Linked DNA regions of Homo sapiens. The protein of the gene in region 2 purifies or fractionates together with the protein of the main gene of each other region. This does not show direct contact. Each region holds a gene or a part of one and is shown on either strand. Other genes may lie near its edges.

The links. The genes of interacting proteins can lie anywhere in the genome.
Region 1: the proteins of TSHZ2 (region 2) and PBX1 purify together in Homo sapiens (affinity purification with mass spectrometry; one large-scale study listed by BioGRID and IntAct). This does not show direct contact.
Region 3: the proteins of TSHZ2 (region 2) and NDUFS4 purify together in Homo sapiens (affinity purification with mass spectrometry; one large-scale study listed by BioGRID and IntAct). This does not show direct contact.

What each region holds. Positions count from the first base shown.
Region 1 is NC_000001.11:164,810,684-164,814,183, forward strand, and holds part of PBX1 (pre-B-cell leukemia transcription factor 1), read left to right. Parts: intron 1-1,306; coding exon 1,307-1,466; intron 1,467-3,500. UniProt on the Homo sapiens protein: Transcription factor which binds the DNA sequence 5'-TGATTGAT-3' as part of a heterodimer with HOX proteins such as HOXA1, HOXA5, HOXB7 and HOXB8. Binds to the DNA sequence 5'-TGATTGAC-3' in complex with a nuclear factor which is not a class I HOX protein.
Region 2 is NC_000020.11:53,255,358-53,258,857, forward strand, and holds part of TSHZ2 (teashirt homolog 2), read left to right. Parts: coding exon 1-1,206; 3' UTR 1,207-1,214; intron 1,215-3,500. UniProt on the Homo sapiens protein: Probable transcriptional regulator involved in developmental processes. May act as a transcriptional repressor.
Region 3 is NC_000005.10:53,602,139-53,605,638, forward strand, and holds part of NDUFS4 (NADH dehydrogenase [ubiquinone] iron-sulfur protein 4, mitochondrial isoform 1 precursor), read left to right. Parts: intron 1-1,313; coding exon 1,314-1,392; intron 1,393-2,585; exon of another isoform or gene 2,586-2,757; intron 2,758-3,500. UniProt on the Homo sapiens protein: Accessory subunit of the mitochondrial membrane respiratory chain NADH dehydrogenase (Complex I), that is believed not to be involved in catalysis. Complex I functions in the transfer of electrons from NADH to the respiratory chain.

The DNA.
Region 1 (3,500 bases), on a different chromosome or scaffold from region 2:
AAAACATAAATTTCAAAGTGAAACTAGATATGCAGTGATCCTGAAATACACCCAAAAGTGTCCTTCCTCCTCCAGTTTACCTCTTTTTCTGTAGACATCAGTGTTTACAATAAATAAAGCATTTTCTTATTGAATTTTTTTCTTTTTTGTTTAATATTGTGGTGGTACAGACTGATTTTTTTTTAAAAAAGAAAGGCTTGGCATTTCTGCTGTAGTATAAACTGTATAAGCCTTTCAGTGCTATCCTTATAAGATGTTTTAAGTTTGTTAATGCGTTTAAAAAATTAAGTATAGTTTTGCAACAGTTTTCTTTATCTGCCGTCGTTGGGAGTTAAATATCAATGATATGTAAGCTGTGGTACATGTGGGATCAACTCCCCCTTCCCTCACCAGATTCATAGTTTGTTTTGTAATTATATAAAAACATCGACATTTTAGTTCAAAATCATATCTGGAATGTGGGATATAAAACTTTCCTTCCCCGGGCAGGAATTATGGGGGTAAAACTTGAATTTAACTGTGTCTCCACTTGTGTCTGGCAGAGGTCTTGGTATGAAGGGAGCAGAGGTACCAGATCAAGCCAAGACACCTGCTGCGAACCACATGAAGGAAATAAATTAACAAATGAAAGTAAATTAGGTTTATTGTGTCTGCTGGCTTTAACATTTAAACCCTAGAATTCAAGGGGATAATCATTTGTATGCTACAGTTTTTCCTTATGTAGATAACACTAAGCTTTACACAAAATAGTCAGTGAAATCTGGTAGATTGAATTATATTGATCCTAAGGTCTATAGTGAAATACAGCTAAGAATCTCAGTCCACATTAAAGTTATGTAACTTCTAAAAATTTGCAATTAATCTATCACACGAAAGCACCTATATGGACATTTAAAGATCTGTGTATCTTGATGGCATCAAGCCAGCTTTCACATTGATAAACGCTAGGGGCATTTCTCCTGAAATGTTAGGTATATTTTAGTGTCATAACTGAAGATGTAAGCAAATTTAAAATGCTTGCTCTAAATTAAAAGGGTTCTAGCTTAAATGAGCAGCTCCTTTATAGGAAGATTTTTGTCACAGTGGTTTCGCTAAATTTCAGTTATATTAAACAAGAGAATCGCATTTTATGTAGTTGTCCTTTTGAAGCTCTTACTTCAGATCTTTTTACTGATGTTGCCAAATTATTATAGGATAAGACCAATTAGCTTACCTCTTCACCTCTCCCATAAAGCCTTTTTTTTCTTCTGCAATGTTTCTGAAGGATGAAATGTGAACTTTCTCATCTTCTCTTAAACTACTCTAGGTATCAAACTGGTTTGGAAATAAGCGAATCCGGTACAAGAAGAACATAGGTAAATTTCAAGAGGAAGCCAATATTTATGCTGCCAAAACAGCTGTCACTGCTACCAATGTGTCAGCCCATGGAAGCCAAGCTAACTCGCCCTCAACTCCCAACTCGGCTGGTTAGTTTTTTCTTTGATTGGGGGTGGGGGAAGGAATTGTTCTCCATTTTTATACTGGCTGTTCCTACATTGGGATTTTCTTTTAATTTGTTAGGCTTTTGATTGGTTAATTTCTGTATTTGATTGTATTTTTGGATGTTAATGTCACTTTGGGCTCTTTCTTTCATTTCCAAAGAGCAATCTGTTAGACTTTTTACAACGTGGGTTGTCTGGAGGTTTGCATTAATTTGTCTATTAAGTTAAGACCAAAGTAAATTGGTTAGCTTGAAGAGACCTCTAAATTCTCCTCTCAGGGATATCAATAAGTAAGTTAGACATAGTGCTTAGAGATAGTCTATTGGGATTCTGTCATTTGGCCTGTTTTATATAAAGCTTTTATCCTTGTCAGTTTTGCTGTTCCAACAACATAATGTCTGGGTCACTTATTAGCATGCATTCTATGCAGAAATATTTACTCTTCTAGCAAATATCTTATTAGAATGCTTTGGTATGCAAAGCCAGGCTATGAATATTTCTATATATTGTTTATAGTTGTTGTTCTTTATTGTTTTTTGTTGGTCTTCTTTATGATTATCGGTCATGAGCTATGTAATAGGCTTTGTTTCAGGAAATATGCATTATATCACTAATTTAAGAGTTTAGGTCAAAATACTATATTTTGGGGTGTGCCTTGTGTCATCAGTTCAGAATTTCTACATGTGAAAAAATGTAGTTAATAATGCAAAAAATATAACCTTTGTGTTTGTATGCTATGGAAGGCATGTGGTAATTTTTTTTTCCCTTTGGTAAAGGAAAGACAAGTATTTTCTCATTAAATAAGTTTGGTTTGACTTTGATTAGGGTGCACAGCTAAGAAAACTGATGATTCTAACTTAAAAGGTTACCAATTTAAATATGTTTGATCGTAATATGATTACAAACCTAATGTCTAACATTTTTTAGAGTATGTGGTATCTTTGACCACAAAGCTTGTTTGTCCACTAAAATAAGTTTTCTTACAGCGACTCGTTACTGGAGAAATGTAGGGTTCCACAGACTGATGTCTTCTGTGAGCTTCCAGATGCATAAATTTGTTATGATAAGGTCCTCCAAGTCACTGGGCTATACCCAGCACTTCTTTTGTGGCCTTCTTTTATCTAAATGGAATCATGCATGAAGAGTAGCCTGGGCTTTTTCAACATGGATATAATAAAACAATGTAGAATTCAATCCAGTTTTAATTTTCCCAGCACTGCAGGTTAGATTCCTATGAGGAGCATATTTACTTTTTTAGAAATATTTTGTTTTTTTCTTCCTCCATCATGGTGTGATTGACAAGGGATCAAAGCTAACAGGTTCAATAACCAGAGAGAGTTCCATCTTCTCCATCTGGTCAATTATTAAGAATTTCAGACCCAACAACACCAGTTGAACTGTGCTGCTAGGCAGACATTTTCACTTGTCTCTTTGGAAGAAGTACAATTCTGTCAACATTAGCAAAAATGCACTCAACACTCCTGCAAAGGTTATCATAATGCAAAACGATATCAAAATGACTTTTTCCTGTCCCTGGTATATCTGCATCGCAGATGGCTTAGCATGATTTATGACTAGTCCTTAGAAAAGCCCTGTGGACTTTCTTCATTACTAAATTTGTAACTATTTATTCTTTCCTAAAGCCCTTAAAAGAGAAAAATAAGCATTTTAACCCTCTATTCTGTGTTTAAGAAATATGGTTGCCTCTTATGGAATGTCAGACTATGATTACAGTTTTCTAAGGAATTTTTTTCTGGTGGCTTAAACATCATGTGACTATTCTGAGCACAAAGTAAATTATTATGGAAAATTTGAGCTAAGCCTTCCAATTGTGCGTAAGTTGTTGGAAATAATCTGCACAGGAACCCCTTTGTAGTGCTTTTTCTAAAGTAGAGGCAAAAGAAAATACTATTGTATGTGTGCAATAGCATGGAATTTTAAAAGATAAACATTTTAACAGGAAAAGTTATAAATGGGCTTTTCTGTATTTTCTTTTGCTCTTAACCAACCTAAATCATC
Region 2 (3,500 bases):
TTCCGCAAAAGTGAAACACCTCCAGAAGCCAAAAAGACCGAGCTGGGTCCCCTGAAGGAGGAGGAGAAGCTGATGAAAGAGGGCAGCGAGAAGGAGAAACCCCAGCCCCTGGAGCCCACATCTGCTCTGAGCAATGGGTGCGCCCTCGCCAACCACGCCCCGGCCCTGCCATGCATCAACCCACTCAGCGCCCTGCAGTCCGTCCTGAACAATCACTTGGGCAAAGCCACGGAGCCCTTGCGCTCACCTTCCTGCTCCAGCCCAAGTTCAAGCACAATTTCCATGTTCCACAAGTCGAATCTCAATGTCATGGACAAGCCGGTCTTGAGTCCTGCCTCCACAAGGTCAGCCAGCGTGTCCAGGCGCTACCTGTTTGAGAACAGCGATCAGCCCATTGACCTGACCAAGTCCAAAAGCAAGAAAGCCGAGTCCTCGCAAGCACAATCTTGTATGTCCCCACCTCAGAAGCACGCTCTGTCTGACATCGCCGACATGGTCAAAGTCCTCCCCAAAGCCACCACCCCAAAGCCAGCCTCCTCCTCCAGGGTCCCCCCCATGAAGCTGGAAATGGATGTCAGGCGCTTTGAGGATGTCTCCAGTGAAGTCTCAACTTTGCATAAAAGAAAAGGCCGGCAGTCCAACTGGAATCCTCAGCATCTTCTGATTCTACAAGCCCAGTTTGCCTCGAGCCTCTTCCAGACATCAGAGGGCAAATACCTGCTGTCTGATCTGGGCCCACAAGAGCGTATGCAAATCTCTAAGTTTACGGGACTCTCAATGACCACTATCAGTCACTGGCTGGCCAACGTCAAGTACCAGCTTAGGAAAACGGGCGGGACAAAATTTCTGAAAAACATGGACAAAGGCCACCCCATCTTTTATTGCAGTGACTGTGCCTCCCAGTTCAGAACCCCTTCTACCTACATCAGTCACTTAGAATCTCACCTGGGTTTCCAAATGAAGGACATGACCCGCTTGTCAGTGGACCAGCAAAGCAAGGTGGAGCAAGAGATCTCCCGGGTATCGTCGGCTCAGAGGTCTCCAGAAACAATAGCTGCCGAAGAGGACACAGACTCTAAATTCAAGTGTAAGTTGTGCTGTCGGACATTTGTGAGCAAACATGCGGTAAAACTCCACCTAAGCAAAACGCACAGCAAGTCACCCGAACACCATTCACAGTTTGTAACAGACGTGGATGAAGAATAGCTCTGCAGGTATGGGTTTGCTCTGAGGCATTGCGATTAGCCTGGTGAGGAGCTTTCTTACAGGGAGATGGGTCTGCTTAGAGGCAGCTAGCATCTCCCAATGCCAAGCAGGATAGTAGCTTGCTGGAGTAGGATTTATTTTAATGAAAGACCAGAACATGAAAACTAAGTCCTAATCATTCTCTTAAGTCCTCTAGTTTAGAGCTGGGAACTAGAATAAAACGGGTTTAGAGAGATAAAGTTCACAGATTACTACTGCTTTTTTTAGGCCTTCATCATCCATAATCCTGAATTACCCAAGGCAAGCTCCAGTGTCCAGCCAAGGCTATCTTTCATTTTAATTATTAGATACTAACTTCTGTCACCATTCCATTTCACCACCCCACCTTTCCATAGCAATGCCAATGACTTATAAAGTGACAAAAAGTTGAGCAATGGAAGAAAGATTGGAGAGTGCTAGAAGTAGTTACTATATAGAGATTCCTTAATCAGCTCATGAATAGCTTAAAGTTGTCTTTATGATTGTTACTTGTAATGAATGCTTTTTTGCAGCTTACTTTTAGTAATTGCCACCTTCCACCTCTTCCCTTTGGTTATTTTCTACATTAAGTGTCCTATGAATGAGCATGTGCCCTTAACAGGTTGGTAGAAAAATATTCTTCTTTGCAGAACATTGAGATGAAAAGAAGCTTATTTTCTTCTTTCATCTTTTGGTTTTCTTGTGGATAGACCAGTATTAGAGCCCACCTTTAACAAAGATAGAGGCAATGTGTGCCCTTGAGGTTTCATTTCACATAAAGAAACAAATGGCTTTCTGTACACTTATGTTAATGTGCATGGAGTCCCATAGCTTGAAGATAATGTGCATCATGTGTCATAGAAGTTCCATGCCTTATATAGTCAACCATGCCCAGACCATTTGTGTCATTTTTAGGAAACAGGGCAGAGACCAAGGTCAAATGCTTTGGCAGATTAGTTTCACCAGCCATTTTCAAATGTTGAGGATAAGCAAGGCTGGGTCTTAACCAATCTCTTTCATTTGCCCATTTGTGTTTTCTCTACTTCTTTTTCTCTCCCTTCCAGCATGATGCCCGCATACACTAAGGGCCCTCCTATGTGTTCAGGTGGTCCTCCACCTTCGGCCATTCCCCAAGATGGGAACCCAACCTGAACTAAACCTTCTGTGCTGACCAATCCAGTTGACGTCATGTTAAGTTACGGATTTGCTCCTAGTTAATTAGCTCTTAATTCACGATCGAATATGAAAAACTAATAACATATAATCGCTCACCACACCCTATTGTCAGAGCATTGGTTTACAAATAGAAGACTTTCAGAACAAGCTAGAAAGGTAGGACACTAGGAGAGTTCCAGGTAGAGAGCGGTATTTACATGGCATGGCTTTGGGCTTGCCTCACATCAGACAGAGGGGTTTACTGGGTGTGAAGATGGCCAAGATGAAATAAAAAGTTAAAATATCTGACCTGGGACTTTCCCCTGAGTGAGGCGATCTACGCTTCTGATGGAGAGGAGTCCTCCTATAACTCTAATTGCTATCTAGACCCAAATGAAGACTATCTTTTTGGTTTGCATGTTTTTATCATGATGATTGAATGTGTTATTGGCAGATTCTTCTCATTCTTTCCAAGCATGATTTGTTCAGCTCACGGAATTGAAAGAAAAGCCAAAATGCATCCATTGAATTCACACCTGAGCTTGGGGTTCAACAGCGTCCTATTTATTTGCTGCATAACATTTTAAATCTTAAATAACTTGCCATTATGTTTTCCTGGTTCTTAAAAAAAAAGAGGGGGGGCATACAGAGAATACTTAGAGAGAAGAAAGATATTTCAAATCCAATAGTGGTGGGTTGAAACCATGGTGAAGAGGACAAATAGGTAATATTTATTTGTACTATAACAAAGACCACTTTTCCACCTGTTAGGTTTGTAATCTTTTTTAGAAAATTAATATAATTGCCAAAACACTCTGATATGTAGATAGGGAGAGGTAAGGAAAAGAAAGCTTGATCCATCGTCAGTCAGAATCTGGAGTGTATGATACCTGTTCTAGGGATTCAAAGGTGAACCAATAATTTGGAAAAACATATACAAAAGGTACTTCCAAATCCATTAAATACATAGATAAGATAGCCATTTTGGCACTTCTCTGCATTTGTACAGGATGAGTATATCTAATTTGGACCTCGAAAGCACCGTATTGGTGTTTTCATTATACAAAACCAAAGCTCCATCCTTACAAGCACCATTAGGCTGTGGTTCTGAGAGGATTGCA
Region 3 (3,500 bases), on a different chromosome or scaffold from region 2:
TACCCAATGTTTTTCTTGTAATATGTGGATTTGTTTAAAAGTATTTAAATTTTTTAATTGCCATGTTACTGACCTTAATGATTTCCAAAATAAAATAGGTATTAAGAGTTGCTTAATTATACTTCTTTAATATAACAACCAGGACATGTATTTTAACTTTGTGTAAATCATCTAGAGTTATTTCCATGTTAGTACATTTTGTGTAGGTATATTTCTGAGTGGGGCATTTACAGTGATAAAGAATTACATAATACCTTAAATTTGGTAAATAATTGACAGATATTTTAAAGTATATTCATAAAGCAGTAAAACCTCTTGTATTATGTTATCTTTAAATTATAATTAAGAAGGTTTTCTATATGGCTGTGTACACATTATCAAAATTGAACTTTTAGCACAAAAAGTTCAACTATTTGTATCAGTTATTTTTGTCAATTATTGGTTATTATGTTGCATTAAAACTATGGTAGTGAATATATTGTATTAAAAAAAAGAAAGGACCAAATGCCATATATTTGGGGTGGAAATTTGAGCCACAGTTGTGTATACTTACTTTTGCAATAGAAATCTATGTCAGATAGCCTAATAGTTTGGAAAACTCTTAAGATGCTAAAATGTCACAGCACAGTCAGGGATATGTATGACATTCAGTAGTATAAACAACAAAGTGTACATGAAACGTCCGTTAACGTTAAGTAATTGGAGTGAGAGTAGGAAAATGCTAATATAAAGGGGCTAGATTCTCTGCCCATTTTACGTCTAACTTAATATTTTCATTTTAACTAATTTTATTTCTCCCATTTTGTGAATGGGCTACAGGACTAAACTAATAACATTAGTTATACAAATCATTCCTATGTAAAATACTTTTGGTGTGAAATTAGAGTGAATAAACTTTTTATTATGATTGGGATTTTTTTCTTTTCGTTTCTGATGCCATCCGTTTAAGAATCAGTGTTCCAGAACAATTGGTATAGCTTTGCATGTTTCTGGCTGGTCGTGACAAATCAGCCACTGTACACTCATAGACAGCAGTACAGTACTTGTCACTGGTGGCCTTTCTGTGACAGAGAGCCTGAAGACTGACGTAAAGCGCAGCCTGTTGTGAACTGTCAAGTGAGTCTGCCAAAAACTCAGCAGACAGAACTAATTGCAGAGAAAAAGGACTTTTGTGCCCTCTTCTCTTTCTTTCCTTTCCTTTTTTTTTTTTTTTAATAAGACAGATATTGTTAAAGTAGCTTGTTTATGTAAGATTTGTCTGTCTCTCCTCTCATTGCCTGGATCCTTTTTTAACTTAAAGTCTTGCACTGCAGGTCGTTGAGGACTTCCACATGGAGATTGGCACAGGACCAGACTCAAGACACACAACTCATAACAGTTGATGAAAAATTGGTAAGGATTTTCTACTACACACTGCTATGGTTCTGCCTTCAGGGTTATTTTTGTACTATAGATATTCAGTATGGTGTTCCAGGTTTTCAGGAAAGTGATTTGAATTTGAATTTCTAGATTATACCTAAATTTTAAGAAGAAATATTTGTCATCAAAAGATAATTTATATTAAGCATTATAAACAAATACAAAACCATATGCAAATATTAATAAATTAAAATTATGAAAGGTTTTCATTTTTGTGGTGTTTATAACTAGCAGAACATTCATTACTTTTTGTAATGAATGTTTTGCTTTTTATTTTCTCAGTTACACTCCTATTTAAGTTGTGAGATACTTGCTAGTACTATCTAAAACTAAATATATTAGGTTTTCTTGGAAGCATGCAACATTTATTATCACTATATGTATATATGTATATGCATACAAACACATACACACACATTTTATTTCTTCATATGTATGAAGAAATAACTAGCAAGCAACTAGCAAACAACTAGCAAGACCAGCAACAAATGAGTAATAATGTTTTGTGAATCAGTAACAAACAGAATTTTGGCAGCCATCACTTATAAAATATTTTAGAGTGTGGTCTGTTACTTTACATGCAACTTTATATTTATGCTTCAATAGCATACATTTTGTAATGTTTCCAAAACTTCTGATAGAAATGAGTAATTGTATATGTGTGCTTTTCATTTTATATCTGGTTTACCATTATCAGTGTTTCTTAACTACCCCCTTTATTATTGTACAGTATTTTATCACTCAACTTTGAGCCTGTAAGCCCAATCTAAGTAATAGGTCACACTTAAATTTCTATTTGCACCATTAAAGATACAGACAAATAAATGTATAAGTAAATAGAGACAGTTTGGAAAATTCACATCTTGTGCTGACTGGTTTTATTTTAAAATTATCTCTTCAGTTTACCTACTGACATTGTCATCATCCTGATCTAGGTTACATCATCTTTCACCTAGATTTCTACAGTAGTCTTTGACCTGATCTCCCTAGACTCTTTAATCCTAATCTGATTAATTTTCCTTAGGATGCCAAAATAGTCTTTGAAATGCTGGTATTGTCACCCTCTTTTCGTCCTTTGGTGCTTCCTGTTGCCCTTAGAGTAAACACTAAAATCCTAACATGGTCTTTGACGTCTTGCCTGATTTAGCTCCTGCCTTCCTCTCTAGGTTTATCTTGTACCACTGTGTTTTACATTCTGTGGTCTAGCCACACCAAGCCTGGAACTTGCTACTCTTTTTCCTGCTTCAAGGCATTTGGAGTTCCTGTTCACTCTACCTGGATGCATTTTAACTAATCCTGAGGACTTCATCCGGTCACCATCTACCTATTCTTCAAATGGTAATCAAACACCACTTGCTTAGTCAAGTATAAAAGAAATGAGGGGCAGGGCATGGTGGCTCATGCCTGTAATCCCAGCACTTTGGGAGGCTGAGGCGGGTGGATCACGAGGTCAGGAGTTCGTGACCAGCTTGACCAACATGGTGATACCCCGTCTCTACTAAAAATACAAAAAATTAGCTGGGCGTGGTGGCGGGTGCCTGTAATCTCAGCTACTCAGGAGGCTGAGGCAGGAGAATCGCTTGAACCTGGGAGGTGGAGGTTGCAGGGAGCCGAGATCGCACCATTACTCTCCAGCCTGGGCAACAAGAGTGAAACTCAGTCTGAAAAACAAAACAAAAGAAATGAGGCAGTTATGTGTGTATGAAGTGAGGATGATTTTCACATCCTGTGTGTTCATTAATGAGAGCACTATTATTTTAATTTTTCCTATGAGCATCTTTTTTTAACTCTCAGGAGGTTGCCTTTTCTATAAAGTTTTCAAATTTTAGAGTTCACTAATAACTCTTCTAAGTTCTCTTCTTTCTAGTTTGAAGAATGAGTGAGTCAGCCAGTAATACATTGCCCTAAACAGAGTGCTATGAAGCATACAAGAGAGGTAGACAGACTGGATTGGTTTGGTATTTTTAATTATATGTCATAAAATCGGTTGCATACTGTTGAATTTTCTTGCCCTACCTAGATTTTCCCCAGCTTTGTTATACCTTTCTTGAAGTAATAGTTGTCCCTCAGTACCTGTAAGG